4 separate regions of the Homo sapiens genome follow, and all the other regions are reported to be linked to region 4. The links are microRNA targets in miRTarBase. Many come from high-throughput screens and were not tested one by one. Region 4 holds a microRNA gene; each other region holds the end of a gene's coding sequence. Distances are between the middles of the regions.
What was found. Region 4 holds the annotated microRNA hsa-miR-6077 (GGGAAGAGCUGUACGGCCUUC, at 5,058-5,078, shown strand). A microRNA usually pairs through its seed, bases 2 to 8, with sites in the 3' UTR of a target mRNA and lowers its output. Matches are read on the target gene's strand: a 7mer-m8 pairs with bases 2 to 8, a 7mer-A1 pairs with bases 2 to 7 and ends in A, and an 8mer does both.

Region 1 (7,199 bases), 130 Mb from region 4:
GACTCTCATTAACAGGGCAGCTGACAAGGAGATGAGCAGATGTGATCTCAACTGGGAAGGGCCTGAGCGATGCTATCGGGGTGGGCCTGGCCCAAGTGCCCATTAACCTCTTGGGAAAGGATGTTGGGGTGTTGGCAGCTGGCAGGGATGGTCCCCCGGGATGGGGATAGACCCTCTTTCTTCAGACTGCGGTCTTTAGCTTGAATCCCTCTCTTGGGACAAGCCGAGGGTTGGAAGTGAATGTCGGAATCGGGATGGAATCAGGGTTGGAAGTGAAAGTCGGAATCGGGATGGAATCAGGGTTGGAAGTGAATGTCAGAATCGGGATGGAATCAGGGTTGGAAGTGAATGTCGGAATCGGGATGGAATCAGGGTTGGAAGTGAATGTCGGAATCGGGATGGAATCAGGGTTGGAAGTGAATGTCGGAATCGGGATGGAATCAGGGTTGGAAGTGAATGTCGGAATCGGGATGGAATCAGGGTTGGAAGTGAAAGTCGGAATCGGGATGGAATCAGGGTTGGAAGTGAATGTCGGAATCGGGATGGAATCAGGGTTGGAAGTGAATGTCGGAATCGGGATGGAATCAGGGTTGGAAGTGAATGTCGGAATCGGGATGGAATCAGGGTTGGAAGTGAATGTCGGAATCGGGATGGAATCAGGGTTGCAAGTGAATGTCGGAATCGGCATGGAATCAGGGTTGGAAGTGAATGTCGGAATCGGCATGGAATCAGGGTTGGAAGTGAATGTCGGAATCAGGATGCAGGTTGCAGGAGGTGGGGAGGGTCAGTGTGCTTTCCTGACTCCTCATGGGGAGATTCCAGCCTCTAGGTCCTGGCAGAGACCCCCAAGCAGGATTTCTCGACTCTGTAGCTCTACTTCTGTTTTAGGCTGGATAAGCCTTTGTTGTAGATGCTGTACAGTGCCTCGCAGGATGCTTAGCGGCCTCCCTGGTCTCTACCCACTAGATGCCAATAGCACTCTCCCAGATGTGACAACCAAAAATGCCCTAGTGGACAAAATGGACCCTGATTGAGAACCACGGCTTGAAGGCAGTGTTGTCTGTTAGAACATTCTGTGCTGATGAAAATGTTCCATATCGGTACAATACAGTCCAGTAGCCACTCAGCTACCACCTGAAATGTGGCTAGTGTCAATGAAGAACAGAAATTGTAACTTTATGTAAGTTTAATTTTAATTTAAACAACTGCATGTGGCCAGTGGCTACTGTGGTGGACAGCAAAGCTCTAAGGGACTGCTGAGCTCTGGTTCTGGCTGAAGGTGGCGGGGAGGGCCTAGGCTGGAGCGTGTGTGTCTGTGGTCTGGCCTCCATCTGCCGGAAGCCCCTGACTGTGGGTCATCCTGTGGGGATTCCCTAGCTTCGTTCCAGGCTCTGCTGAAGGATCCCAGCTTGTCTTCACTGGAGGGTCCCATAGGGAACACCCAGTTAACCCCTTGGTTTGTCATATGGGGAAACTGAGGCTTAGAAGGAGAGTGGGTCATGTGTCTGAGGTCACACAGTGAGCGAGTGGCGGAGTTGGGACCAGCCCCCAATCCCATGACTCCTCCTTTAGGAGGAAGCAGAGGCCTGGCTGGCTCTGGCCCTGGTCCTGGTCCTGGTCCTGGCTCTTTTCTCCTCTTTCTGCCCTTTGCCCCCTGCATGCCCCACCCCCACTCCCACCCCAGCATGTTCTGGCCCATTAGTGGGCAAAGAGGTAGTTCAGGGCCAAGGCCAGGGGACTGACCTCACGGGACCCTCCAGCTTTATGTTGGTCCCTGCCATGGATGAGGGTGGGGCAGACTTGAGGGTGGGGGGCAGAGCACGGAGAGTTTGAGGGCAGAGTCCAGGACAGGCTCACCTCAAACTCAAGACAGCCCAGAGCCGCCCTCTAGAGAGAAGGTCCGGAGTCCCCTTTGAACACCAAGGGTCACCCCTTATGACCTCTTGCCATCAACCTGGGCTGAGATTTCCTCTAAGAAACCCCCATAGCACAGCATGGGGGAGAATTCCCATCCCCAGATTAGGGCCCCAAGCCAGGTCCGCAACCAAGGGAAGGAGAGGTGCCCCCAGAGTTAAACTCAAGTGTCCCCAAAGGCTTTTTCAGCCCTTTCCCCCAACTCCTCAGTCCCACAGGTGGCCAGATAAAAAGCATGGATTTTGGCACCAGCCAGATCCAAGTCCAAATGTCAGTCTCATCATTCTCTGGCTGTATGATTATGTGACTTAACCTGTCTGAGCCACAGCTTCAGAGGGAGGCTGTGGCATTTAGTGATGATATATCTGGCACATAAAAGATGCTCAATAAATGCTAACAATGATCAGGGCTGCCAAAGACAGTTAAGCAAGCTGTGCACAGCAAAAGCACACCACACTTTGGAAGACATCCACACCACAGACCTTGTAGGTGTGTATATTTGTTGTACAAGTTTCTGGCAGATGACACGAAAATCTCTTGTTCTAACAAAGTTGCTATAATATGACAATTTTCTCATAGATGAAAGAAAGAGTGGGAGAAGTTTTTTTTTGTTTTTTGTTTTTGTTTTTTAATGTACAAAATTCCTGGTAGTCCTGGCTGTTATTCAACCTCATTTCCAACCCTGAATCTTTTTCTCCTCTGCTTTCATAGGCCCTAACTCTTGAGCAAACTCCAGTCCTAGAGCCCTTTCTAGGCTGTGGCTATGGCCAACCCATTCCCCAGGGCCTGTCTCATTCTGGCAAGGAAGGGGTGCCAGAAGCACAGCACTTATAGCCAGACAGCCTCCCTCTTGCCTTTTCTCTTTTGCAGGTTAACATGGTGGTCTTAGGCAAGTACCTGGGCATCCCCAAGCCCTACGGGCCCATCATCAATGGCCGCTGCTGCCTGGAGGAGAAGGTGCAGTCCCTGCTGGAGCCTCTGGGCCTGCACTGCATCTTCATTGATGACTACTTGTCCTACCACGAGCTGCAGGGGGAGATCCACTGTGGCACCAACGTGCGCAGGAAGCCCTTTCCCTTCAAATGGTGGAACATGGTGCCCTGAGCCTGCCCCCACCCGCCATCCTCTCTGCCCTCTTGCTAGGGAACCCTGCCAGGGTGAAGGCAAGGAACAACCACCTGGCCTCCATTCTCTTGGGGGAGTCTTGGCACTTTGCAAACATCCTGGCCACCATGGGCACCAGGACACAGGGATGGATACCACCTACCCTCGCCTCTGGAATGGCCTACCCAACCCGAGAAGAATGCACCTCATTCTTCCCTGGCCTCTTTCCCACCCACAGCCCCCAGAGGCTCTAGATCAACAATGTTAGCATGTTCCAGAATGGCTGTGGGAGGCCTAGGGAGATGGGCCCCACTTAGAATTGCTCCCCCTTCATTCTGATGCCTCCCTGGGGAACAAGGATAATGACTTTGCATCTGCACCTGGAACGGGGCCTGGGGGACCTGGGGTCTGGTGTGCCAGGCACCAGGCTGCCTCTGCTCTTGGAAAACTAGGAAAGGGGATCAGAAACATCCTCTCCCCGCTCTAGGTTTCTTCTCCCAAAGGGGACCCAAGGCTGTGACACTTACCTCCACCCCCATCCAGCACCCTTCAGCTGTGTGTGGACAAACAAGGACAGAAAAACCCAGTGTCCAAGGGCCAATTTAAATAGAAAAAAAGACAACAAAATTTTAATAGCTGACTCCGACCTCAGAAGAGTGATTGCTACCTTTCTGGAAAGACTTTAATTACCAGAGCTGGCTTCTCCCAGCTCAGAAATGCTGAGAAGCCAACGTGAGGCCTGAGGACACACAAAGGATGACGGGGCAGGAGGGGATGAGGTCAGGGTAGCAGAGTGTGTGACGACGGATTTGGGGGCCTAGAGGTGTCCGTGGTTCCTGGGCTGGGATTTTGGACTCTGGATTTGAAGGGAGCTGGAGCTTCCAGATGTAGCAGGGGTAGGGGGCCAGATGTTAGAAGAGGGTGTGTGTGTTGGGAGGAAATTAGGTTATCTCTGAAGGTGGAGTTTAATTTCCTTTAATAGTCTTTAATTATTCCCCTTCATTCTGCAGGCAGTGGGAGGGGAAGGCTTGCCCGGTCTCTCTCAGCAACCCAGGGACCCTGCACATAGCTTAGGTTTCATCCCTGAATAAACCGCTGTGCAGGCCCATGTCCCCTCCCACAGTAGGGAAGACAGCTGCCACGGGAGGTTAATAGCCCGGAGTGAGGTCACTGAGACATGCACAGGCAGGCTGGTTCAGCTGGGCTGCAGGGCACGGGCAGGAGGAAGCCAGCCTACCCTCTTCCCCCACTGCCAGTGAGGCCATTGTAGGGCAGTTGGCCCTAGGGCTTCGGTCCATCTAGGTTTTCAGTGGCCCCTGCTGAGACCTCACACTGAGCCAACTACTGTCACTGTTTTAACCAACAAAAGCTAGCCTGGAACTGCTATGGTTAAAGTGGGTGAGCGGGAACCTGAAAATCCCCTTCTGGAAGGTTCTACAGAACTCTATTTGCAAGCTCCTGCTTTAACCTGAGCGTCCTCTGCTCAGGATCATACCCCAGCCTGCACTGAGTCAAGAAGGAGAAGGAGGCTCTGAAGGGGCCGGGGGTGTGAGCTGGGGTTGGGACTCCCCTGAGAAAGAGCTGTGGGTAGGAAGGGAGTGAGCATTGCAGAGATAGGGCTGGGGGTCGGGGCCACACTGAGTGTGGGAAGCTCTGGAGTTGCTGCTGGGCCATCGAGGGGCCCTGGTGTTGGCTCTGAGAATGTTCTGGGTGACCAGTCACCTACTTTCTGATCAATAAAAATGTCGACATGCATTTCTTACAGGGCTGTCTACCCAGCCTGTTTGTTGGGTTGGGGAGGAGGGGAGGAAAGCGGAGAAGACTGCTTCCAGTTCCATCCACTATGAAGCTGCTTGGCTCAATTTCTGCTGCCACAGGCGGCCCCTGCTCAGCTAGGAGAGCCTCACAGTGCCACGGCCAGTGCCACGGCCAGTGCCAGGCAGGCTGATTCAGCAGGATGGCTGGCACATTGCCTCTTGCTCTGGGGCTGATGGCCCTGCTAAGATGGAGATCAGATCAGGGGAGGGATGGGTCCTGCCTCTTCATCTCTTCTCTCTTCCTTCAGCATCCCCTCCATCTCTCAGGGACAACAGGTCGGGGAGGCAGCCCGGGCCCTATTAACAGAGGTGAGAGTTCCCCAGCAGGGCTGGTTCCCAGGGCCACAGGCCACTACAGTTCCCTTTCTGGTTTTCGTTTTGTTTTGTTTTCTTTTCTTTTGTTTGAGACCGAGTCTTGCTCTGTCACCCAAGCTGGAGTGCAGTGGTGCTATCACAGCTCATTATAGCCTTGAATTCTTGTGCTCAAGCGATCCTCCCACCTCAGCCTCCTGAGTAGCTAGGAATACAGGCACAGGCCACCATGCCCAGCTAATTGCTAATTTATTTTTTACGGAGCTGGGGTTTTGCTATGTTACCCAGGCTGGTCTCAAACTCCTGGGCTCAAGCGATCCTCCCATCTTGGCCTCCCAAAGTGCTGGGATTACAGGTGTGAGCTACTGTGCCTGGCCCAATTCCCTTCCATTTTTGTGTCTGAAGCTTCTAAGTTACCTGGCTTCAGTGGTCTGATTTTGGATGCCTGAAATCATCACCCTCTCATCCTACACATTTGCTGCTGCCTCAAATTACACCGTTTGATACTCACTCACTTTATTTTAGCTTTTGTTGTGGAGTAAGAGGGCAAAAAGTTGCTGCCTATTAGTCATTGACACTTTAGTCTGAATTAACCACAAACCTGTTTCTAAAAGTTGGTATTAACAGAGGAGAAGTGAAGGCATGAGTCTCCTTCCAAAGACATATACAGTTCTCCGAGAAAGAGGCAGGTAGTGGGCCAGCACCCCAGGGAAAGCCCCTACTTTCTGCATCTATTCCCCATCTGTGCTCACAAGAAGGCTAGGGAGACTAAGGCTTCCTCCTGAGCTCGAACTCTTACCCAGGGCTCCCAAGGCTGACTCAGCCATCAAGCCATTCCACAGCTGAAAAAAGTGAAGCTGTCCCTTGACCCAGAAGCCCAGCAGTTCTCCTTGAAAAGAACATCTTTCCCAAAAACTGAGACATGGGAATGACAATCTCAGGGTCCTGTTGAGGCCCTTGAACTGGTGCAGATGTCCCAGCTGGAGATGCTGGGGAGCGGGTCCTGGTCCCCATCCTGTCTCAGGCTGTCAGCACTGCCAGGGAGAAGGGAGGAAACCTCTATTCAGCACCTCCTGAGCCTCCGCCAGGCAGGGTGCGTCTTCACTATTATCTCCGCCAGGGCCAGTGATTAGCTGCATTTTCTACAGATGAGGAAACCGAGTCTCCAAGAGGGGGGACACTGACACCCAAGGCCCTATAGTGGGTGCACGGTGGAGCCTGCCTCTGAACCCAAGACTTCTCTCCCCAGAGCCCTTGCTCCTGCTCTTCCAGGAGCCTGAATGCCCCTCTGACTTCGGTTTCCCACCTGACGACTGAGCTTTCCTACTCTGACATGCCAAGCTCCCCCTGGCTGGAGAGAGTTCTCACCCTCATCATTTACCGCTTTCAGAGGTTTTTGGGACCTAATAACAGCAACAATAGTAATACAATAACGCCAAGCTCCATACCAGAGCTCTACCAACGCTGGCCCCTGAGGCCTCACAGCAACCATTTTTCAGACGAGAAAAGTGAGGCACGAACAATTAAGAAAGTTGCCCGGCCGGGCATGGTGGCTCACGCCTGTAATCCCAGTACTTTGGGAGGCCAAGTCGGGTGGATCAAGAGGTCAGGAGATCGAGACCATCCTGACTAACACGGTGAAACCCCGCCTCTATTAAAAATACAAAAAATTAGCCGGGAGCCGTGGCAGGCGCCTGTAGTCCCAGCTACTCGGGAGGCTGAGGCAGGAGAATGGCGTGAACCCGGGAAGTGGAGCTTGCAGTGAGCCGAGATCACGCCACTGCACTCTAGCCTGGGTGACAGAGCGAAACTCTGTCTCAAAAAAAAAAAAAAAAAGAAACTTGCCCAAGGTCGCCCATCCAGGAAGCAGCTGAGGCAGGGCTGAAACCCAGGTCTGGCTCTAAAATCCATTAAAAAAAAAAAGTTGGTGTTTCTCAAAGGGCACCAAAATGCTTTGGGGGTGCTTATTAAAAAATCCAGAGGGCCGGGTGCTGTGGCTCATGCCTGTAATCCCAGCACTTTGGGAGGCCGAGGTAGGTGGATCACCTGAGG
Region 2 (7,199 bases), not on the chromosome of region 4:
GAGTCAGACGGCAGCCCTGTGCCATCCAGCCAACCAGCCTTCCCTGTCCAGATCCTGCCCTACCTCTACCTCGGCTGCGCCAAGGACTCCACCAACCTGGACGTGCTCGGCAAGTATGGCATCAAGTATATCCTCAATGTCACACCCAACCTACCCAACGCCTTCGAGCACGGCGGCGAGTTCACCTACAAGCAGATCCCCATCTCTGACCACTGGAGCCAGAACCTCTCCCAGTTCTTCCCTGAGGCCATCAGCTTCATTGGTAGGTGCTGTGTGCTGGGCAGGGGGGTGTGGGTGCATCAAGGTGTATGCAGGACTCTGGGTGGCGCCCCCGCCTGACTGGGTACCTCTGGGCCTGTTGAGACCTGTGTGTGCCCTACGTGTGCCAGCGTGTGCCCGTGGGTGTACCCAGGCCTACTGTGAGTCACCGAGTCCCTTGGGCCCCTCTACCTGTTGGGGCCTGAGCAGTCTCCTGAGTCCTGAGCTCCCCCTAGCTGACAGCACGTCATGGGCTCTCTGCTGTCCAGCTTGTGTTTTCCTGGCTTAGATGTTGTTTCGGGCTTAGCAAGCTGAAACATCACAGCGCACAGACCTCCCACGGGTCTCACTTGCTCCGCATCACGCCTCAGCACACGTGTCTCTCCAGGATGGGGTTGTCATAGTGCCTCTTTGGGCTTTAATGTGGACCTAAGAGGGCTGAAAGGTAGCCCTGGAGCCAGAGGCACACCCCAAACAGGCAGCTATTGAAATGTGGTGACTGCTAGCTCAGTCAGCCTCCAGATGCTCTCTGCAGCCTGTAGGGCTTGCTTGGAGTGTAGGGAGGAGTGCAAGAGAAGGTGGGGGAGTGGAGAAAGGCCTTCCCCAGAGCAGTGTGTCCTGCTGTCTGGCTTAGTGCCCTTCGAGTCCCTGTATCCCCAGCCTCAGCAGACTCGGGTCCCCACTGCTTTCTCCTTGGCCAGCTGGAGGCTGAGACCACAGGTCATCTCCCCTGGCCCAGGGTGCAAGGAAGGGGCACGAGGGCTCAGGATGAATGTAAACGCTCTATCTCTGAGCCTGGTGACCCAATGTTTCTGCCCAGCCTCCAGTGGCAAGGTGTGGGGGTGGCCCGGGCTGTCTTTTCCCGATGGTGGCTGTGTCCAGTGGAGGGCGTTTTGGTGTCGGCTGGGCTGGGCTAGCTTTAACAACAGGAAGTGGGAGGCTTCCCCGCCTCATCCGCTTACTGGGAACCAAAAGTAGGTGCCTGGCTGGGAGGAAGGAAGGAAGCTGAGGCCTGGGGGAGGGGCTGCAACTGGGGCTGCCTGGAGCTTCTCAGCCCTGCCCACCACCCCCTGGGTCAAGAGGGCTAGGGGTGCTGCCTCAGCATTTGAACTCCCCCAACGAGGGAGGGGAATAGAGAGAGGGAAGCAGGCTTCGCCAGGCTGGGCCTGGCTAGTGGGTACCTTTATCCTTCCTGAAAGCTCCTCCCCGTCTGGGTAGGGGGACCTTTTTCCTCATTTGACAAGTGAAGGAATTGAGGCCCAGGCATCCCTTAGGAGTCAGTGGGACAGGATCAGTCACCAGCTACACCCTGAAAAGGCCAAAAATAAAGCCAGCAGAAACAGACTGTCTTTGGATCACCTGGAGGTGGGTTTGGAGGCCAGGCGTTCCTCACATCCTGGTGTCACCACTGGAGGCTGGTCCCAGCACCCCCTTTTCCCACCCCCAATCTCGAGGTCTGACCACACAGCTCCTCATGAAGCTGCAATGTCTGTCTCCTTGCCAGATGATCCTGCCCCAGTGCCTTAGCCATGGGGCCCCCTGTCAGTCCCTGAGTCTGGAGGAAGCACCTACTGTATGCTTTACTCCTTGGTTGGGAGGGGATGGGAGAGGAAGCTCTGTCAGGACAAAGGCAACGAAGAACAGTGGGTGAACCCGTATGTCATCTTGTAGGAAGGCATTGATTGCGTGCTAGCTGTGTGCCTGGCTCCTGGAGGGTTCAGAGTCAGGGTGGTGGGGACATCAAGGACCCCATGGCTGCCTCTTGTGAATCTATGTCCCTGGCACAGCTGTGGCACACAGAGAGGCAGCTGCCCCGGGGTCCAGGAGAGATTACAGGACTGAGTTGTTCAGTAGCTCGGCCAGTATTTATTGAGCTTCTATGTGTCAGACAGAGGAGTCTGAGGGTGGCACTGGGGGAAGCTGGGAGGGTTGGAGGGGAAAGGGGACAGGAAGGTTGGCCCCATCCAGTCAGCTGTGGTAGGAGATATCACTGACACATGGGCCTCCTGAGGAAGGTCTAGCAAGTGGCAGGGGTGGGGCCCATTTAAGCACACCTCACTTATGAAGCCCCATCACAAGTGATAGTGTGGCCATCATCCCAGTCCATGTGTCTTAGGAGCTGGAGTTAAGGCCTTGGGGACTAGCTGGGCAGATGGCAGAGCGAAATGCAGGGCCAGGCCACCTACTTCCTTCCAGAGGAGCCTCCCTCAGGCCACTTTCCTAGAAGACTCTCAGGGACAACCCATGGGAGCGGCTCCAAGAGAACCAGCCCAGCCCCCAGTCCCAGGTCATGGCCTGGCAGCAGCGGGCGCTGAGCTAGGAGGAGCTTCTGTGTGGCCTTGGGCTTGCCACTTTGTCTCTGTGTCTGTTTCCTCGTTGATAAAATGGGCTTACTGGCCATGGTGCAGATGACCCAAGAGGATGCAGGTGACACCCGTGACAGCAGTCGTTAACGCACATGGCAGTGGTAGGACTAGCCATGATCACAGGCATTACAGTAGTTCATGTTTGTTGACCCCTCACTTGGCTCAGGTCCTTATGAGACCACTGTGCATAAATAGGCCCATTTTATAGATGAGGAAACAGACACGGGTGTCCAGTGCCTTGGGGCTAAAGTGTGCAGAGCCCTCTCCACAGCAGTGCTGTTGACCTCTATTCCAAGTTGCTGCCCTACCCACACTGGGCTTGGCCAGGTCCCTCAGGGGTCGGGCAAGACCAGCCAGCCACCATGCTGCCCTCTGTGCCCCAGCCCCACCTGCCCACCCATGTGGGAAGGCTCCTTGAAGGAGGCACCTCCCTGACCCATGCCAATGTGTTTCAGACGAAGCCCGCTCCAAGAAGTGTGGTGTCCTGGTGCACTGCCTGGCAGGCATCAGCCGCTCAGTGACGGTCACTGTGGCCTATCTGATGCAGAAGATGAACCTGTCACTCAACGACGCCTACGACTTTGTCAAGAGGAAAAAGTCCAACATCTCGCCCAACTTCAACTTCATGGGGCAGCTGCTGGACTTTGAGCGGACGCTGGGGCTAAGCAGCCCGTGCGACAACCACGCGTCGAGTGAGCAGCTCTACTTTTCCACGCCCACCAACCACAACCTGTTCCCACTCAATACGCTGGAGTCCACGTGAGGCCTGGTGCACGGGGGGCATGGCACCAGGCCCCTGCTCGGCTCTCCACAGGGCTAGGTGGGAGAGCCCAAGCCCGCCACCTCTGGCCTGAGGAACCCCCAGATGTCACCTGTGCCCAGAGGCCCAGGCTGATCGGTGTCGGAGCGCCCCTCACCATCCTTGGGGGCAGGGCCCGCAGGCAAGGTCTCCCACTGCAGGGCTTGCTGGAGAGGCCTCGGCTCTTGGACACGTGGCTTTGGGCGTCCACCAGGGCCTCATCCTGTCCAGGACGCTCCTTTCTGCTGACAGCCCAGCCAGTTTGGCTGTTTTTTAAAGACACATCCACGGACCTGAGTTTACTTTTTACTTTTGGCAGGTAAATCCAAGCTCCCTGGAGCACAAAGAGTGTTTGAGCTCTTCTTGATTTTTCTTTTTTTTTTTTTTTTTTAACAAAAAGTGTTATTTTCAGGCTACATGCAACAGTGGATTGTATAACCCAGTATTTCATCCCTTTCCTGATCCTGCAAGAGAGAGAAATGTTCAGTTTTGTTTTTCGTTCAATTTCAAAAAGCAAGTATCGTGTTTGTTTTTGTTTTTGTTTTTTAATGGAAAAGACAGACGCCATGTTGACCTTGACCAAATGCGTTTTGCACATGTGTGAAGCCTCTGTTTCCTCAGCGGGCCCTTCTTGAAGGGGTGGCTTACTGCTCTTCAGGTATTGGGACCCCCAGTCGTGCCGCCTCCCACCCTTGGCCCAGTCTGACTTAGCTCTGCATTCGCCTGTGATGACTGCTGCAAGTTGTGATTGGTGGGCTGGATGGTGGTCTTTGCATTTTCTGCCGTCTCATCCATCCCTCTGGTGGTCCCTGCAGACCTCCCTGAGGCAGAAGGTGGGGACCCTGGGGCCCTGCCGCTGTCCCCCAGGAGGTGGGCCGCAGGGGGCTGCCAGGCAGTAGCATTAGCCCTCTGGGGTCAGCCCCTAAGAAGGCCTGGGCTCTGAGCCCTTTTATATACTTAGCCACTACTTCTGTCTGTCTGTCTGTCTCTCTCTCTTCCTCTCCCTCTCTCTCTTTCTCTCTCTCCCTCTCTCTCTCTTTCTTTCTCTCTCCCCCCCTCCCTCTCTCTTCCTTTCCTCTCTCTTGTTGTAACTGGGAGTGGAGGCCCAGTGGCTGGGGAGACATTAGGTGGTGGGGCCCAGCCCGACCTCCAGGTTCTTCCTTCTCCCTAGCTGTTGCTTTGGTCTGGCCACTCCCAGCCCCCTTGTCCCCTTGGAAGCTTGCCCTGCCCTCATCTTGCCCATGCCTTCTACTGCCAGGAGACTTGCACCCATTTCAACCCTAGGGCGGGGGCAAGTGGGGCAAGGATGGACCAGCAGAAGGGGGGTAAGGCTCTGTTCACTTCCCCCTGCCTCCACAGAACGAAGCCACGGATTCCGTTATCTTCCTCCAGTTTTGTTCCTTCTCCAGCCTCAGTTCCACCAGGTGTCAGGACTGCATGGGGGCCTGGGGCAGGCAGAGGAGTCAGGCCAGGGTCCCTGACGGAGCAGCACTCAGCATGTGAGTGAGGCCACAGAAAAACTCTGCCCCACTGCTTCTTACCTCACGGGGGTGGCTTTCAGGGATTCTTTAGCGCAGCAGATTAAAATCTTGCCACAGTCGAGAAATTGACAACAAGCTTCCATGCTGTACATGGTTCTCTTTTTCTCTCTTTTATTTTTAAAAAGAAAACCCAGAAAGATGTACCAGATTTGTGTAAATGAGGGTATGCCAGAAGGTGGCCAGTTTTGCTTTATGATCTTATGAAGGAAGATTTGTGACCCTACGTATATATATACACACACATACATATATATATATATCCCGAACCAACAACGGGACTTTGTTTATATTGCAAATAAATATTATTTTTTCTTTAAAATGAGTCGTGTCCGATAAGGGCTTGGGGCCTGGGAAGGAGGGGAAGGAGTGCTGTCGACAGGCATCCTAGTGCCTGCTCTGTGTGAGGCACTGGCCTGGTTCTGCTTGGGGTCTGCTGGCCACTTAGACTAATCAAGGTGCCCCGCAGATGGGAGGGAGCAGCCACAGTTTCTGGATGAAGCTGGGGCAGGTGGCATTTCCCCAGCCCTTAGGCACTGGCAGGCAGAGGCATCAGGGCTTTCTCTGTGGGCTTCTGCTGAAATCAAGGCTTGGAGAGGTTGTATATACCAAGTTGACACAACTGAGTCCTGACTCGCCCTTCATTGTCTGAGGCTGTCTGCTTAGGCATTGCCCAGATTGCAGCCCCCAGGACCCTAACTCTTTCTCTTGCTGCCGTGTGGGTGAGAGGGGAATGTGCATTTAACCCTGCCCCTGCAGGTCCTGAGATATCAGTGGGTAGTGACAGGTCAGCCCTTCTTTGCTTCTTAAGGGCTGGGTGGCCTTGGACAGGTCCCTTAGGCCGATTGCACCTGGTTCCTGAGTGCTTTTCAGCTTTGTGGCATGAAGAGCACATTATTGGCCTGGGCTCACAGGGAGGAATCAGCCGTGCTCAGGCGTGTACAAGGAAGGGTGGGCATGGGCCTCTGTCAAGGCTCCCCTGGGGGTGGGGGTCTAAGCGAGGCCCTGGGCTAGAGCAGGGAGGAGGTCTGGAGAAGGATGGGGGCCACAGTCTGGGGAAGTGAGGCCCCAGTGGACAACAAGCCCCGAGTTACAGATCAGGAAATGGAGGCTCCAGAGTGGCTTAGGTCTCCCTTGCCTCTGGCTGGATCAGGTGAGCCCCAGTCAAGGACTTAAGAGGCCTGGAAGCTGACTCAGTTTCCCCATTTCTGACATTCCCCAGCTCTATCCCTTCAGCAAACTGTGTGATCAGCACTGAGCTGGATCCAGGTGGAAGGTAGGTAGGTAGGGCCGAGAGGGTGAGGGCGGCTCAGCCTGGGACTTGCTCTGTTGGGGTGCCCAAGGCTCTCCTTCTCTTCTCTCCCTCATCTCTGCTCTTCAGTTAGTCTGCACCAGAACGCAGTCACAACCATCATGCGCAGCCTGTGGAGAGGGGTAGAGGGCAGGTTCTGCCCACTGTGGGGCCTGGGTGCAAATCTCAGCTGTGTGACTGCAGTCCCTCAGTTCTACCCCCTAACACTCCCATGTGGAGCGTGGAAGAATCCTGCCGCTCAGCCGGCAGGCCTCTGTGGGTAGGAGGGGGCTTCTTGCTGCATCCTCGACAAGGGGGCGGTGCTGCTGTTGCTCCTGGGCTCCCTCAGGGCCCTGTTCCTTCTGTGCCAGGGGCAGGCAAAGGGGGTGGGGGCCTGAGCAGGCAGAGACTGGGCCTTTGTTCCCTCCTGCTGCCCTCGCCCAGGCCTGGGGAAGCCCGCGGGTGCTGGGCTGGGGGCTGGGCCCTCGACAAACCGAGTAAGTGCCTGGCAGTGCCAGCGTGCCCAAGCACAGGACGGGGTGGGGGTGGGAGTGGCAGCCGCCTCCTGAGCCGGCTCTTCAGACGGAGGACTGGGACTGCCTGAAGAGGGCCAGCCCCGCCACTTACCCCTGTGCACTCTGGGGCCAGTGGTCTCTCTGACCGTCTGTGTCCTCCTTACCTGTAGAAATTCCTACCTCAGCACTGGGCCTGGCTAAGGTTCCCTGCTGGGGGACAGAGGGCCAGGTCATGGCTGAGAGGCTGGGGCCCTGGGTCCTTGCTCTGTGACCTTGGGCCGGGCCACGCTTACTGGACTGTGGTCCCCCACCCCTGGGTTTTGGGCTCCCATCTCATGGCCCCGTGTCCTGAGCTCCTCCTATCCCACCCCGTTTCTGCCATGCTCTCCCCAGCGGGCCCTGCTTGCTTCAGGCCATCTGTGGCTGAGGCCC
Region 3 (6,607 bases), not on the chromosome of region 4:
CTGCGCCCCCAGCGCCCCCCGCTCGCCCACCCCCCGGCCCGGGCCCATCCTCTGCGCCTGCCAAGGCCTCCCCGGAAGCGGAGGAGGCAGCGCGCTGCGTGCATTGCCGCGCGCTCTTCCGTCGCAGAGCAGACGGGCGTGGCGGCCGCTGCGCAGAGGCCCCGGACCCGGGTCGCCTCCTGGTGCGCCGTCTAAGCTGCCTGTGGTGCGCCGAGAGCTTGCTCTACCACTGCCTGTCGGACGCCGAGGGCGACTTCTCGGACCCGTGCGCCTGCGAGCCGGGCCACCCGCGCCCCGCCGCGCGCTGGGCCGCGCTGGCCGCGCTCTCCCTGGCAGTGCCCTGCCTCTGCTGCTACGCGCCCCTGCGCGCGTGCCACTGGGTCGCAGCGCGATGCGGCTGCGCCGGCTGCGGGGGTCGCCACGAGGAGGCTGCGCGGTGAGGACGGCCTGGTGGGTCCCCTAGCCGGCCCGAGGACCCAAAATTGAGGGTCCAGGACCCCGGACTCCGTTCGGACCTAAAACCCAAACCTAGGCACATCCGGAACTTGGAGCTTGAGTTTGGATTGAGAGATCTCAGACCTGGAACCTGGAACCCAAACCTAGGACTGAGAGACCCCAGCCCCAGCTTCATTGGGGTGTCTGTCTAAGAAGTCCCAGGCGTCCTGAGTTCTGGCGTTCCCCCACCCCCACACCCCACGAGGAGGCTCCAGGCGTCCCCATACTTTGCATCTCAGAAAGGCCAGGGAGCACATAGATCCCGAAAAGGGCAGGTCCCTGTTGAAATGAACAACCTAGAACCCGGTCACGCCTGGCACCATGTCCCTCAGATTACAGCCCCACAATTAGTCAGGACTTGCCCATAACTGGCTCTGCCTTTATTCAACTCCCAGATCAGATCTTGAGACCATAGGACCTGGAGTCACCCACAAACAGTTCCTGAATATTCACCTAAGACCTGGTGCCCCCACATCTGAGACATTCTCATAGTCCCAGGACCCCTGAGACAGCAGGACCCCTGAGAAAGTTTCAAACAGAGTTTGAAACTCTGTTATGCTCTGGAATCTCCAGATGCTGCCCCTCAAATCTACCCACGACTTAGTGCCCACAGACCTGGCCTCCAGTCCGGGAACACTGAAGTCTAAGATGTCCAGGGAACTCCCAGACACCCTGGGACCCCAGACTCTTAAGATGCACTGAGTGCTCGGATATACTGAAACACGAGCTGTTCTCTTACCAAAATGACTTGGGAGACCCATCCCAGAGCCCCCAAGATCCAGATATCAGACACCAAGATGCTCTGGAAGCCAGGGATCAAAGACCTCCATAGGTCCACCCACCCCCAAGCCAGGGTTCTCAGGAGCTTTGGATATCATTTATAGGACTCAGAGGTGCCTGGGGTCCTCAGATGTGCGACTGAAGGCCACCAACACCTCAGGACCCGAGATACTGGTCTCGAGTTCTCAAATAGCCCTCTCTTGCAGTCCCTCCTGGACCTGGATTTTGAGACCCCAAATGTCCTGGAATCTTCAGCTTCTTTCTACCCACAGATTCCCAACCCCTTAAGGGCTGGGAGTCCAGCTCCCAGAAGAGGGGATGCTCATGGTGACCCAGACCTCTGATGCCCTTGGCCCTCAGCCCTTGAGTGACCCTAAGGTACTTTAGGAGCACTGGATCCAATACCCCAAAGGTGCCACTGACCCCCAAATGCAAGGCTCAAGACCCTACAACATTGGGATTGTTCCTGATCCAAGACCTTCATCCCTCCATACCAGAGGCGTTCAGATTCGAGGTGCCCCAAGACCCCAGCACCCTCAGACCCCAGATTTCTTTGGATTCAAACCTCTCTAGTCTGATGAACCCCAAGTTGCCTCTACACCTGATTCCCCCATCCCCACTTGTCGGACCTCAGAGACCTGCTGCCCCTTGAATCCTGTCATCCATAGGCCCCTAAAACCCCAAGGTTCCAGCCTCTGGAATTCTGGTCCCAAGGATCCCAGCCCAAGCCCCCAGCAATCCTCAGAATTACCCCTTTATCTTAGGGTGGGATCCCTACCATTTGGAACTCATTGTAGGACCACCCAGGGTGGGGCACAGTGGCTCATGCCTTGTAATCCCAGCACTTTGGGAGGCCAAGGGAGGAGGATCGCTTAAGGCCAGGAGTTTGAGACCAGCCTGGGCAATGTAGTGAGACCGTCTCTAAAAAAAAAAAAAAAGGACCAAGTAGGAGCTCCCTCACTGTCACGTCTAGGACCCAGCATTGTCACAGATGATTATGCAGGGTCTTCATTAAGTGAAGGCACACAGCCCAGGGTTTCGAGGAGCTGGAAGTCACACCAGTCTGCTGGCCACACTGTGCCCTCAGAAGAAGTGTGTGCAATGGAAACTTTCAGGCTAGTTATGGCTCTGCTGTCCCACAGCCCCCAGTCTTGCAGACCTTCCTTCAAGCACAACCTTAATTCCTAGTCCAGGTTCAAGTCCCACCTTTTATGTTCTCCCCCTCCATTAACCCCTTCTCTTCCTATTTATTTATTTATTTATTTATTTATTTTGAGACAGAGTCTCGCTGTATCACCCAGGCTGGAGTGCAGTGGCACAATCTCGGCTCACCACAACCTCCCCCTCCCGGGTTCAAGCCATTCGTCTGCCTCAGCCTCCCGAGTAGCTGGGATAACAGGCATGTGCCACCACACCCAGCTAATTTTTTGTATTTTGAGTAGAGACAGGGTTTCACCATGTTGGCCAGGATGGTCTCAAACTCCTGACCTCATGATCCACCTGCCTCAGCCTCCCAAAGTGCTGGGATTACAGGCATGAGCCACTGCACCTGGCTCTCTTCCACTTTAGAGTGAGAAGTTGCTTCAGGAAGTTTGAAAGCCTGTTTCATGGCCCACTGAGTCTCTTCTGTGCAAAGGGGGGTGCCACAGGCTTTTTTCCCCCAAGTGAAATGGGGCTTCCAGTGGATCGAAGATCTGGTGTCCTGTATGGGGGCCTCAAGGTCTTGGAGCAAGACAGTCTCAATGTTGTATGGGCTTGGGACCTGCATCTGGCCCCAAGCATCTGGAACTGTGCACTTAACCTTTCTTCATTACCCAGACTTGGATGGCCTTGTTGGGGTTCAAGGGATAGGTCCTCTGTCTCTTCCTTTAAATTATTAACTATTTATTACATCCGGAACCTGTGAGATTCAGCACTCCCAACCAGACCCTGGGATGGGTGAGAGAAAAGCGGGGGTGTCTCTCCCCTCCCCACTCTGCCCAGCTCTCATCACTGTCAGACCCACCAGAGCTGAGGGCGGAGGGATTGGGGGCTGGGGCAGCCTGGGTCCCCATGCCCCTCTCTGTGCCTCGGTCTCCCCCCTTCCATGGTGGGCGGGGGGGAAGCTCCATTCTTAACCTACCTCGTTTTGGGGAGGGGTGGGACGGGGGACCAGAGTGCTGTACGGTGCTGTGGGATCTGCAGATGAAGCGGTGGGGGCTAAGGAAAGGTCCCCTGGCCGCCACTTCCCAGCAGCGCCTCTCCCAGGTCCCCCAGTCCTGCTCCCTGCTGAGACCCACCTCTGATCCATGATTCCCCTTCATTGCCCCCAAATCAGGGGTACATGGAGGGCCGCCCTGGGAGCCAGGCAGACCTCAGACCCTGGAGCCCCCAGGCCCAATTTCCCAGCCGCTTGCCCCTCAGATCGGATGCTTGGCCCCCAGATTTGGGGGAGGCACCCCAACATATATCTTCCTGATCTTGTTTCTAAGCCAGTCTGTGACCTCAATATTGTTAGTGTCAGTGCAGGCTGAAGTGGTGGGGGAGGATGGGGGCCAAAGACCCAGCCTTGTCATCGGGGGAGGGGGCACGAGATCTGCTCCAAGAAATGTCTGTGACAAAGTCTCAGCCTGTGTTATTTATTTGCCTCTGTGCACCCCACCCACTCACCTTCCTGAACTGCTAAACCAGTCTCCTACTTAAATTCTCCCTTCTCCCATCAGACCCTCAAGCTGAGTTTTATAAGACACTCAACAAATGCATTTATTGAGCACCTAATTATGTGCCAAGCCCTGTTGAAAGCACTGGAGATAAAGCAGTGGGCAGAACAGACAAAAGTCCCTCCTGCAAAGAGCTTATGAGCTTTATAGTAGGGGAGACAATAAGTAAATGACTTAATATGTTAGAAATGATAGAAAGCAGAAAGAAAAAAAAAAGTGGGAATGGGGGATACATGCCATTTTAGCTAGAGTGGCCAGGTTAGACCCTCCTCAGGAGTTGGCATTTGTTGTTTTGAGACAGAGTCTGACTCGGTCACCCAAGCTGGAGTGCAGTGGCATGATCTCTGCTCACTGCAGCCTCTGCCTCCTGGGTTCAAGTGATTCTCCTGCCTCAGGCTCCTGAGTAGCTGGGACTGCAGGTGGGTGCCACAACGCCCGGCTAATTTTTGTATTTTTAGTGGAGTCAGGGTTTCACCATTTTGGCCAGGCTGGTCTCGAATTCCTGACCTCAAGTGATCCACCTGCCTTGGTCTCCCAAGTGATTCCAGGTGGAAATCTCCCAAGTGATTACAGGTGTGAGCCACTGTGCCTAGCCAGGAGCTGGCATTTGAACAAAGCCCTGACGGAGGTGAGGGAGTTCTGGGGATGTCTGCAGGGAAGGGTATTTTAAGTAAAGGGAACAGCCAGTGCAAGGCCCTGAGACAGGAGTGTGTCCGGTAAGTCTGAGGAGCTTCAGGGAGCTAGAGTGTTGAGAGGGGAGGAAGCAGAGAAGAGAGCGCTAGGAGATGAGGGCAGAGAGGCGATGGGGCAGATCTGTCAGGCCTTGAAGGGCATTGAATGGACTTAGGTTTTTACCCTGAGTGAGACGGAGCCACAGGAAATTTCAAACATGGGAGGCATGTGACCTGACTCAGTTCACAGGCTCCTTCTGCTGCATGTGGTCAGCAGAGTAGGAGTGGGGTGGGGGACAGCTTCACAGAGAGGAGGCTGCTGTGATGGTTCAGGACAAGACAGCAGCGGACAGGCCCAGGGTGAGGGCCCTGAAGGGTGGAGAAGTGGGCAGGTGTTGGGCCTACTTTGTAAATAGAACCCACAGATTTATGTATGGGATTTGAGATAGAGGAGTCAAGATAGTAAGTCCAGGTTTTTGGCTGGAGCAATTTTTTTTTTTGTTTTAAATTGAGTTCATCACCCAGGCTGGAGTGCAGTGGCATGATCACTGCTCATTGCAGCCTCAAACTCATGAGCCCAAGTGATCCCCCCACCTCAGCATCCCGAGTAGCTGGGATTACAGGTGCACACCACCAAGCCTGGCTAATTTTAAAAATGTTTTTGTAGAGACATGTTCTCACTATGGTGCCTGGTCTGGTCTTAAACTCCTGGGCTCAAGCGATCCTCCCACCTCAGCCTCCTGAAAGGCGGGGATTACAGGTGTGAGCCACTGTGGCCCACCTCTGGGCAATTTTTAACATTTGATTTATGTCAAAAAATAGCCCCCCAAGTGTCCTGCCTTGGGGTAAACAGGGTTATGGGGTTACTCGTATCTGCCCTTAAGGAACAAGTTCTACCCCTGTTCTTCCCTCCAGGCTCCTGGTCCACCCCCAACTTCCAGCAGAATTGTCTAGGAACTACTGGATACCAGGATACAGTAAGGAAGAGATTAGATCTGACACAATGTTTACTTAGCAACAGCAACAAAACAACAGCAGTAGTAACAGTGGAAATAGGTTCCGTGGTTTAAGAGTATAGAGTCTGGAATTTCATCTTCAAGCCTTGGCATCACCATGAATTCACTCTGTGACTTATCTTCTCTCAACCTTAGTTTTCTCTTCTGTAAAAGAGATAAGATACTTCGCCCAATAGTACACATTAAATGCTGTATATATATTAGTTATTCCTTATTAAGTACTCCCTATATATCTGCTAAGCACTTTTTACATATGAAACTCTAATTAATCCTCAGCAACAACTCTAAGAGGTAGGTACTATTATCCCCATTATACAGATGGGAAGCAATTTGGCAGGAACATGGAGCTGGCGAGTAACAGAATCAAGCCCTAACCCTTTGCCTGATTCCTAGGGTGTAATCTCTTAACCACTATGGTGCATTGCACCTGCTCACTCCAAGGCCTAAGAGGGAGAGGAGTGAAGGCCTAACAGGCACATCGTGATCGATGAGGAGGGCCTGGTGTGTGAGGGGTGTGCTGGGATTCCTGGGTCCCTTATGTAATTCAAACCCTGAGGTGGAAAGGAGGGAGGAAGTTTTGGATTTTAGGCAGAGTTGGGTGAACACCACTCCGTCTGGGCTGCTTTAAGAGCAGAGGACAGGGCCAGGAACACTGGCTCAAGCCTGTAATCCCAAGCTTTGGAAGGCTGAGAGGGAAGGATTGCTTGAACACTGGAGTTAGAGGCAAACCTGGGCGACATAGCTAGACCCCTCTCTACAAAACTTTATTTCTTTTTTGACACGGAGTCTTGCTCTGTCCCCAGGCTGGAGTGCAGTGGCGCGATCTTGGCTCACTGCAGTCTGTGTCTCCCGGGCTCAAGCAATTCTCCTGCCTCAGCCTCCCAAATAGTGGTGACTACAGGCGTGTGCCACCACGCCCGGCTAATTTTTGTATTTTTATTAGAGA
Region 4 (7,199 bases):
CTGGGATTCCTGCTGGTTGCCGCACAGAAAGCCAATCACCAAGATGATTATTGCCAAGGAAGGCACTTTAATAGGGTGCTGCAGTGGGGGAGATGAGAACTCAAGTCTCAAATCTATCTCCCTGACCAGCCAAAACCAGAGGTTTAGATGGCAGGAAAGAAATGAACAATGTGTAAGAAAACAGGAACTAGGGAGCAGCAAGGAAGCAATCATGATGAACGAGGGGTCCCAGCATCTCACTGTCTGGATGAATTTCAGTTCTTTGATAGCTTTTTTGACAGTCCTGAAAGTCATTTCCTGAGGAAGGAACTCAGATAAAACAAATATTAAGTTTCAAGCTTTAAGACCAGAAGGGTCCATTTCTAGGTTTATCCAAAAAAGCTACATGTGGGACTGTTGGGTGGTTTTCAGATCAAGAAAGAAAAAGATTGTGCAGACCAAAGTCTGAAGTTAACCAAAGAAAAAACAATTTTCTGACCAATAGGATGTATAGGATCAGAGAATGACAAGCCTATAGAAGAACTGTTTTTTTGTCCTGAGCATAGGGGAAGGATGAAGCTGCACCAGATAAGGTGGAATTAAGCTGCAGATGGGCAAAAATCTGAATTTTGGTTCAGAGCCCTGGGGTCTTCCTCAAAAGTCTCCTTCCTTGAAAGAGGAACCCTGTCTTGGTTTCTGCATCTCTCTGAGTCCTTTTGGAGGTTGAGGATGCTGAGGTCTTGGTGCTTGGCCCCCTCTAACCCTGAGTACTTCCCCTCCTGCAGGGCAACCTGGCCAAGTACCCAGGCCCCAGCTCCAGCGACCATTTCCCCCTACTTTGCTCCTAGCAAAGGCTATTTCTAGGTCAGTGGTGAGGCACAGGCAGGACAGGGCAACTCGTTCTGACATGTTTTGCCCTGGAAGGCCTTGAGCACTGCGGTCCTGCAGAACCACTGTCTCCCTCTTTTGGAGAAAGCAGGGAGGAAATGACCTGTGTGGAGGGAATCGAGGGCTACACCTGCATGGAGGAGCTGAGGCAAGCAGGGCAGTTCCAGTCTGTAAATGTAAAGGACATTTGTCATCCAAGAGGTTGGGCTGTTATTATTAATTTTGAATTTTGTCAAAACAAGCTTCAGGGAAATTAGTCGTCTTACTTGTAAGAACCTTACAAGACCTCCCATCTTATATTCCAGGGAGAATTGCTGCGTATTACATGAACACATAGGTGAGACTGCTGTTCTGACCTGCAGGACTTGATGCCCTGGCGCAGGGGCACCAGGGTACCGGCAAAGCCTTTCCCATACAAAGAGCAAGGATGTTATGTCTACAACCCATCGGCACCAGTTCCAAGTACAATTTCTGCTCGACTCTATGGACTGAGTACACATTCCCCCCAGCACAGAAATCCTACAAACTCCCATGAATGCTATAGTGAAAAGCAGGGGCTGGCTAGGTGTGATGGATCACACCTGTAATCCTAGCAGTTTCTAAACTTGAGTCTAGGAGTTGGAGACCAACCTGGGCAACATGGCAAAACTTCAACTCTTAAAAAAACAACACAAAAAAACAACAAAACAAGCACAGAAATTAGCCGGCTGTGGTGGCTTGTGCCTGTGCTACTCCAAGGGCTGAGGTGGGAGGATTGCTTGAGTCAAAATGCCACCAGATACAGTGAGACCCTGTCTCAGGGAAAAAAACAAACAAACAAACAAAAAGAGGCTGTGTAAGAGGTCAACAGAAAAATACTAAGGTTTTCAAGTGGTGTTAAAAGCCAGTGGGCCTTGGGGACCATTGAGCAATCTACAAAGCAGGGAAGCCTAGATCCCTGAGCTCCACCTGCCAAGTACCACCACAGCTAATGTGAGAGACCTCCCCCACAGAGACTGAAATTTGCCTCCCGAGGAAACAAGTGACTACAGACATCTGTCCCAGGATAATAAAAAAGAAAACAAGGTCTCACAAAAACAAAAACAGCTGACCACACCATACAATCACTGAGACTGAGCCTGTGACTATAGGTGAAGAAAAAAAGGCTGTCTATTATTCATACCATGAAGGACCAGGGGAAAGTGCGAACACAGTCCCCTACTACTGTTGTGGGAATCAGGAGAACAGAGAGACCAATGGGTGGAACAGGAGGACTTTATTGAGTGTACTCAGGCCCAGCATATTAAAATCCAAAGGCTGAGCCCTGAACAAAGACAAGGCTTGGCTTTTACACACACTTCTGAAAGGGGGTTGGCTAGTTTGAATGGTGCAGTGGGAATTTGAAGGTGCAAAACTCACGGTGCAGGCAAGAGGGCTTACAGAAGCAGAACAAAGGCAGCTAATCAAACTGTGACCGGTCTTGCAATGCAAGCATAGCTGGTGACCTTGCAGCTGCACTGACAGGAAATCAGGAACTTAAAACTTGAATAATAAGAAATGGTAAGGGGAAAAGAGAAGGTAGTAAAGGGATTTGTTGTTTTTTCCTCTTATCCTTGCTAGGGGCAGACTGTGTTGAGAGAGTCTCTGGAACTAATTCCTCAGGGCTCTGGCTTTTCAGACAGTGTTATCAAGGATCTGCTAGGGCTCTATCTATTGCTGGCCTTGGAGTCAGTCAAGTACTGTGAAGCTCAGTTATGCAGCTGAGCTTCACACATTAGGGGAGATAACAGAGAACAGCACATCTGGAGTGCAATGGATGAGCCTCAACCTTAGGATGAACCACTATTGGTGACCATAGGATTTCCCCTACCAGGTAAGTGGCAGTCCACATACCTCTGCCCCACCACAGCTCCATACGCCTCACCTTTACACGCATGGTCACTTGCTCTGAGAACCACCCCCACCAATCCCCAACCACCCTGAGCCCTCCTAGCCCTAACACACAGCTGGGACTCTCACGTCCACCCAGCAGTCCTGGACTTGCTCCTACAGCACGGGAAATCCTCCATGGTGAAGAAGCAGCCCTGTGCTACCTCATCTACATAGAAATGCCCTATCGATGATGTCACCGACAATACCTTTCTTAATGTTCTGGAGATTATTAAATTAGATTTGTATAGTTGTGAAAAGTGCTCATATTGCTGATTCCATTGCTTATATGTGATCATATAAATCTTTTCTCTCCTTTCTGTAGTGTGGTTTAAACTTAATCCTTAAAGGACATGTATTTGAATTTTTCAGCTGGTTAGAAACCTGAATATACCAATCAAAGAAAACTGCTCCTTACATGCTACAGATTTGGTTTTCTTCCTGTACTAAGATGTCTTTTAGATATAGTAAATTTGTTAAAGCCAAGACTTCCTATGGAACGAAGTTTGATGGGAGGGGGGACATTGAGTAGTAAGATCACTCTTGTAACAGGGATGCCACTCTTGCAGATATTGACAACTATTGGGCCCATAAAATTTTTACCAAACATTGGAAAGACAAGATATGAACAACTTATCATTGCTGCAGTCTCAAATATCAGGAAATACCATTATTCTCAGGACAATAAATAGACAATAAAAAAAGTCTCACAGAGCAGATTAGCTGTCATGTATTACCAAACAGGGATTGGATCCTTGTCAACACCACCCAACAGAAATTGTCCATACAAATTCACTTCATAACATCAAAACCAAAAGCCCACACTGATGGCAAAAAATAATGACACAATAATGAGAGAGAGAGAGAGAGAGAGACCTGTCCTATAGCCATACTTAGTGTGTAAAAGCCAAAGAGCTCAATTTCTGCTCATGATACTTAATAAAACAGACGGAACATGAGCCAATAATTCAGTGGGTTCAGATCTGCACCAAGTGCCTGTTGGATGCAGGATTCTACTGTCTCCAATAATATGTCTCAGATGGCCTAGTTTTTTTTTGTTGTTTTGTTTTGTTTTGTTTTGAGACAGAGTCTCGCTCTGTCGCTCAGGCTGAGGTGCAATGGCATGATCTCAGCTCACTGCAACCTCTGCCTCCTGGGTTCAAGCGATTTTCCTGCCTCAGCCTCCCCAGTAGTTAGGATTACAGACACACACCACCACATCCAGCTTTTTTTGCTTTTTTTGCTTTTTTTTTTTTTTTTTTTTTTTTTGTATTTTTAGTAGAGACGGAGTTTCGTCATGTTGGTCAGGCTGGTCTCGAACTCCTGACCTCAGTTGATCAGAAGTAGGTGAGGTCAGAAAACATACCCTGGGAAATGCTGGCACAATGCCCAGAACCGCCATCTCTAGGCCTGGGGTTTTCTTTTGTAGTGGAATACTAGTATTCATGCAATGCAGGGACAAGACCAATTAGATACTTCTGGGAGTTAAAAAGAGATGAATTTACAGTGCCATTTGAGAAGGGGTATTAAGGAATTTGCCAGGGTACTGACGCGTGTCAGGTGCAAACTGCAGGTTGAAAGAGAGCTAAGTATTTTCTGTCCATGAAGGTGATAAGGGAGGGCCTGAAGAAAGACGGACCGGGAAGGACACTGGCGCCAGAAGTAGGAAAGGGCTGCTTGGGGGTGGGAAGGATGGGTCGGGGTGCTATCTAAAAAGTTGCCTGGCAATGGATGTAGGATATGGAAGCGAGACATCAAACAAGAAGTTGTCATTTAAATAAAGTCTGAAGAAAGACTAGATATGTAAACAGCAGGAGATAATAGGGAAACTGGACCCCGCTGCTCATAAAACTTCCTGCCTTATATTTCAGGGAGGATCGCAGCGCATTTCAGCCAAGACAAGTAAGACTGCGGTTCTGACCTGCGGGCCTCCACGAATTGCATTAGGGCACCTGGGCTCCGGGAAAGCCATTCCCCTACACAAAGTAAGCGTGTTATGTCTGCAAATGAACGGGGACACTAAGAGCCCCAAAGGCCCTGCTTTCATCCCAAAGAACAGCGCCTGTCTGCGTAGTTTGTACCTGGCTCTATGAGGTGAGAACACATTCCCCGCTAGCACAGAAATCCTACAAACTCCTGAGGGGGCTGCGGTTAGAAGCAGGGGCTGTGTAAAAGGTGACTCTGGGGGCTAGAGAAAACCACGAAGATTTTCACAGAGCGTGAGAACCCAAGACACTGGAGACCATGGACCAATCTCTGCAAAAAGCAGCCCTGCGTAGAAAGGGAAGAGCTGTACGGCCTTCGCGCTAGTTTGTTTGTGTTAAGGCTGACGCTCCCTATTTCTCCTCAGTGGGAGAAGCGACATCTTAATTCCTATTTCCCAGCCTTCCACTGTAAGAATAACACGTCCAAGACACAAATCAATGAAAGAAAAAAGTAGCCCTTAGAGTACAGCGTATTCTTGAAACTACAAAAAATCAGGGGAAAGCGCGAACGCAGTACCACTACCACAAATTATGCAATCGAGTTTCCCACATTTGGGGAAATCGCAGGGGTCAACACATCTGGAGTGCAATGGATAAGCCTCGCCCTGGGAAAACCACCTTCGTGATCATGTTATCTCCCCTGCCAAGTAAATATGAGCTCCTGCACCTCCGCCCCGTACGCCTCACCCTTTACACGCACGGTCGCTTGCCCCGCGCACCCCCCAGCCCTCCTAGCCCTGACACACAGCTGGGACTCTCCGGCCGGACCAGCGGTCCTGAGCCCGCTCCCAAGGCTCGGGAACTCCTTCGAGGCGAAGCAGCAGGTGGGGAAGCAGCAGCTCCTGCGCTGCCTCATCTACATAGAAGTCGCCCTATCCGTGATGTCACCGACAGTGCCTTTCCCAGGCCCCATCTGCCTTTCTGCCAGTCAGCCGACCAACCCGCTGCCTGAACCAGCAAGAGGAAGTGACGTCTGCCTCTCCCTTTTTCCCTCCCGCCCCGGCATCTGTTTTCGCCCAAAGAAGCTGGTCCTTAGCCTATCTTGTGAAGCAAACTTTCGGTGGCCAGATGGAGCCTGGGTACTCTTCTTCACATAATGACTTTTATTTCGCAGACTAGAACGTTTAGGACTACAAAAGAAACCGGTTTTCTTCACATACTTATCCTTGTAATGTAGCATTCCGCTTGAAATTGGAAGCCGTTCAATGTCACAGAGAAACCATATTTATGAAAGTAAAGAGGCTTCTCAGATGACTGCAAACCAGCCTTCCTTACTGATTTTATCACTGGTAATGTTATAAAAACAGTTGTCAAGTTTAATGAATCTTGTAGTTTTTTTTATTTTTATTTTTATTTTTTTCCAAATTCAGTATTGTGGAAAAATATGCTGCCACAGAAGAAATGATTGGACACTCTCAAATGTGGTGTTGCACTTTGTCATCTTTTGCACAGCCATCTCCAGACCTTATTGCTTACCTCGTGTTAGTTTTTTATATTCTGCAAAGACAAAACCAAAATAATCCAAATTTGACAAAAATACCTGGGATACATCTTATTTGTGATGCTTAACAAATGTCTGGATCATCTTTTCTTATATGGGATTATAATGCAGGAAACACTGTGAAGTAAGCAAAGTTGGAATTCCCAAGTCAAAGACCATTTGAATATTTACAAGTAGATTTGAGACAGGAATAATACAGGGTGGTCACAGGATAACAAATTCTAGGCAGCAGATTTACATGACTTGAGGCTATGGGCTGATAAGATGCTGAAAAACCAGGGTGTGGACCAAGCTGGCTAAGACTGACTGGACCCAATGTGGTGCTGGATTTGACGTAGGTTTTACCTAGGCCCTCATTATACGCTTATTAACATACTAAATCACACACCCACCAGTGCCATGACAGTTCTGAGACCAATATTTGATGTAAAAATGGATGGCACCACAGTTCTGAGAAATCTCCACCTTTACCCAGGAATTTTCATCAATATTCCACTCCTTGGTTAAAGAAACCCATTGAGATGAAACCCCAGAACCCATTGTTCTCTCTCAGGTATGCCCAAACTCCCCTTTCTTGAGTGTGTACTTTCTGCTTTGCAATAAATCTCTTCTTTCACTATTTGCTAACTCATCCTTGACCTCATTCTTGAGATGGTGTCAAGAGCCTGGACACCACAGCTGGGGTCGAGATCCTACCAGTGTCCGGGGACCTCCCCCAGCCCACCAGTATCAGATTCTATTCCATTGCTCAAATCACAAAACATCAAATGGAGAATTCTTCTTTGGAGACCACAAAGTAAAGATTCTGTGGCATGGTGGCCAGTTAGGCCACTGGAAGACATGGCAAAATATTGAAAATGAGGGATTAGGTGACAGCGTAGTAACTGCTGAATGTGAAATACTTGATCCAGACCCCATTCCCTGTAGACTGACTGGGA

Region 1: miRTarBase lists PADI1 as a target of hsa-miR-6077. Seed matches in the 3' UTR shown: 7mer-m8 at 4,257-4,263.
Region 2: miRTarBase lists DUSP7 as a target of hsa-miR-6077. Seed matches in the 3' UTR shown: 7mer-m8 at 4,416-4,422 and 7mer-m8 at 4,488-4,494.
Region 3: the mRNA of SPRED3 is a reported target of hsa-miR-6077. Seed matches in the 3' UTR shown: 7mer-m8 at 2,513-2,519, 8mer at 2,831-2,838 and 7mer-m8 at 3,136-3,142.

Annotation. Positions count from the first base shown.
Region 1 is chr1:17,241,226-17,248,424 of GRCh38, forward strand. It overlaps PADI1 (peptidyl arginine deiminase 1), which reads left to right. Exons shown (of 16, transcript NM_013358.3): 16 at 2,785-4,782. The coding sequence ends at 3,018. Among named protein-coding and RNA genes, the nearest start is that of PADI3, 4.3 kb to the right of the region's middle.
Region 2 is chr3:52,047,003-52,054,201 of GRCh38, reverse strand. DUSP7 (dual specificity phosphatase 7) reads left to right here. Exons shown (of 3, transcript NM_001947.4): 2 at 1-262; 3 at 3,080-5,283. The coding sequence ends at 3,387. It overlaps LOC124906238 (a long non-coding RNA gene), which reads right to left. Exons shown (of 2, transcript XR_007095908.1): 1 at 6,880-7,199; 2 at 5,244-6,383. Among named protein-coding and RNA genes, the nearest start is that of DUSP7, 6.0 kb to the left of the region's middle. RefSeq lists an enhancer at 6,683-7,199.
Region 3 is chr19:38,395,706-38,402,312 of GRCh38, forward strand. SPRED3 (sprouty related EVH1 domain containing 3) reads left to right here. Exons shown (of 6, transcript NM_001394336.1): 6 at 1-3,882. The coding sequence ends at 440. Among named protein-coding and RNA genes, the nearest start is that of FAM98C, 4.1 kb to the right of the region's middle. RefSeq lists a silencer at 4,454-4,612.
Region 4 is chr1:148,383,237-148,390,435 of GRCh38, forward strand. MIR6077 (microRNA 6077) reads left to right here and starts at 5,046; the gene lies at 5,046-5,127. It also overlaps the pseudogene RNU1-155P and the pseudogene RNVU1-2. RefSeq lists an enhancer at 4,349-5,188.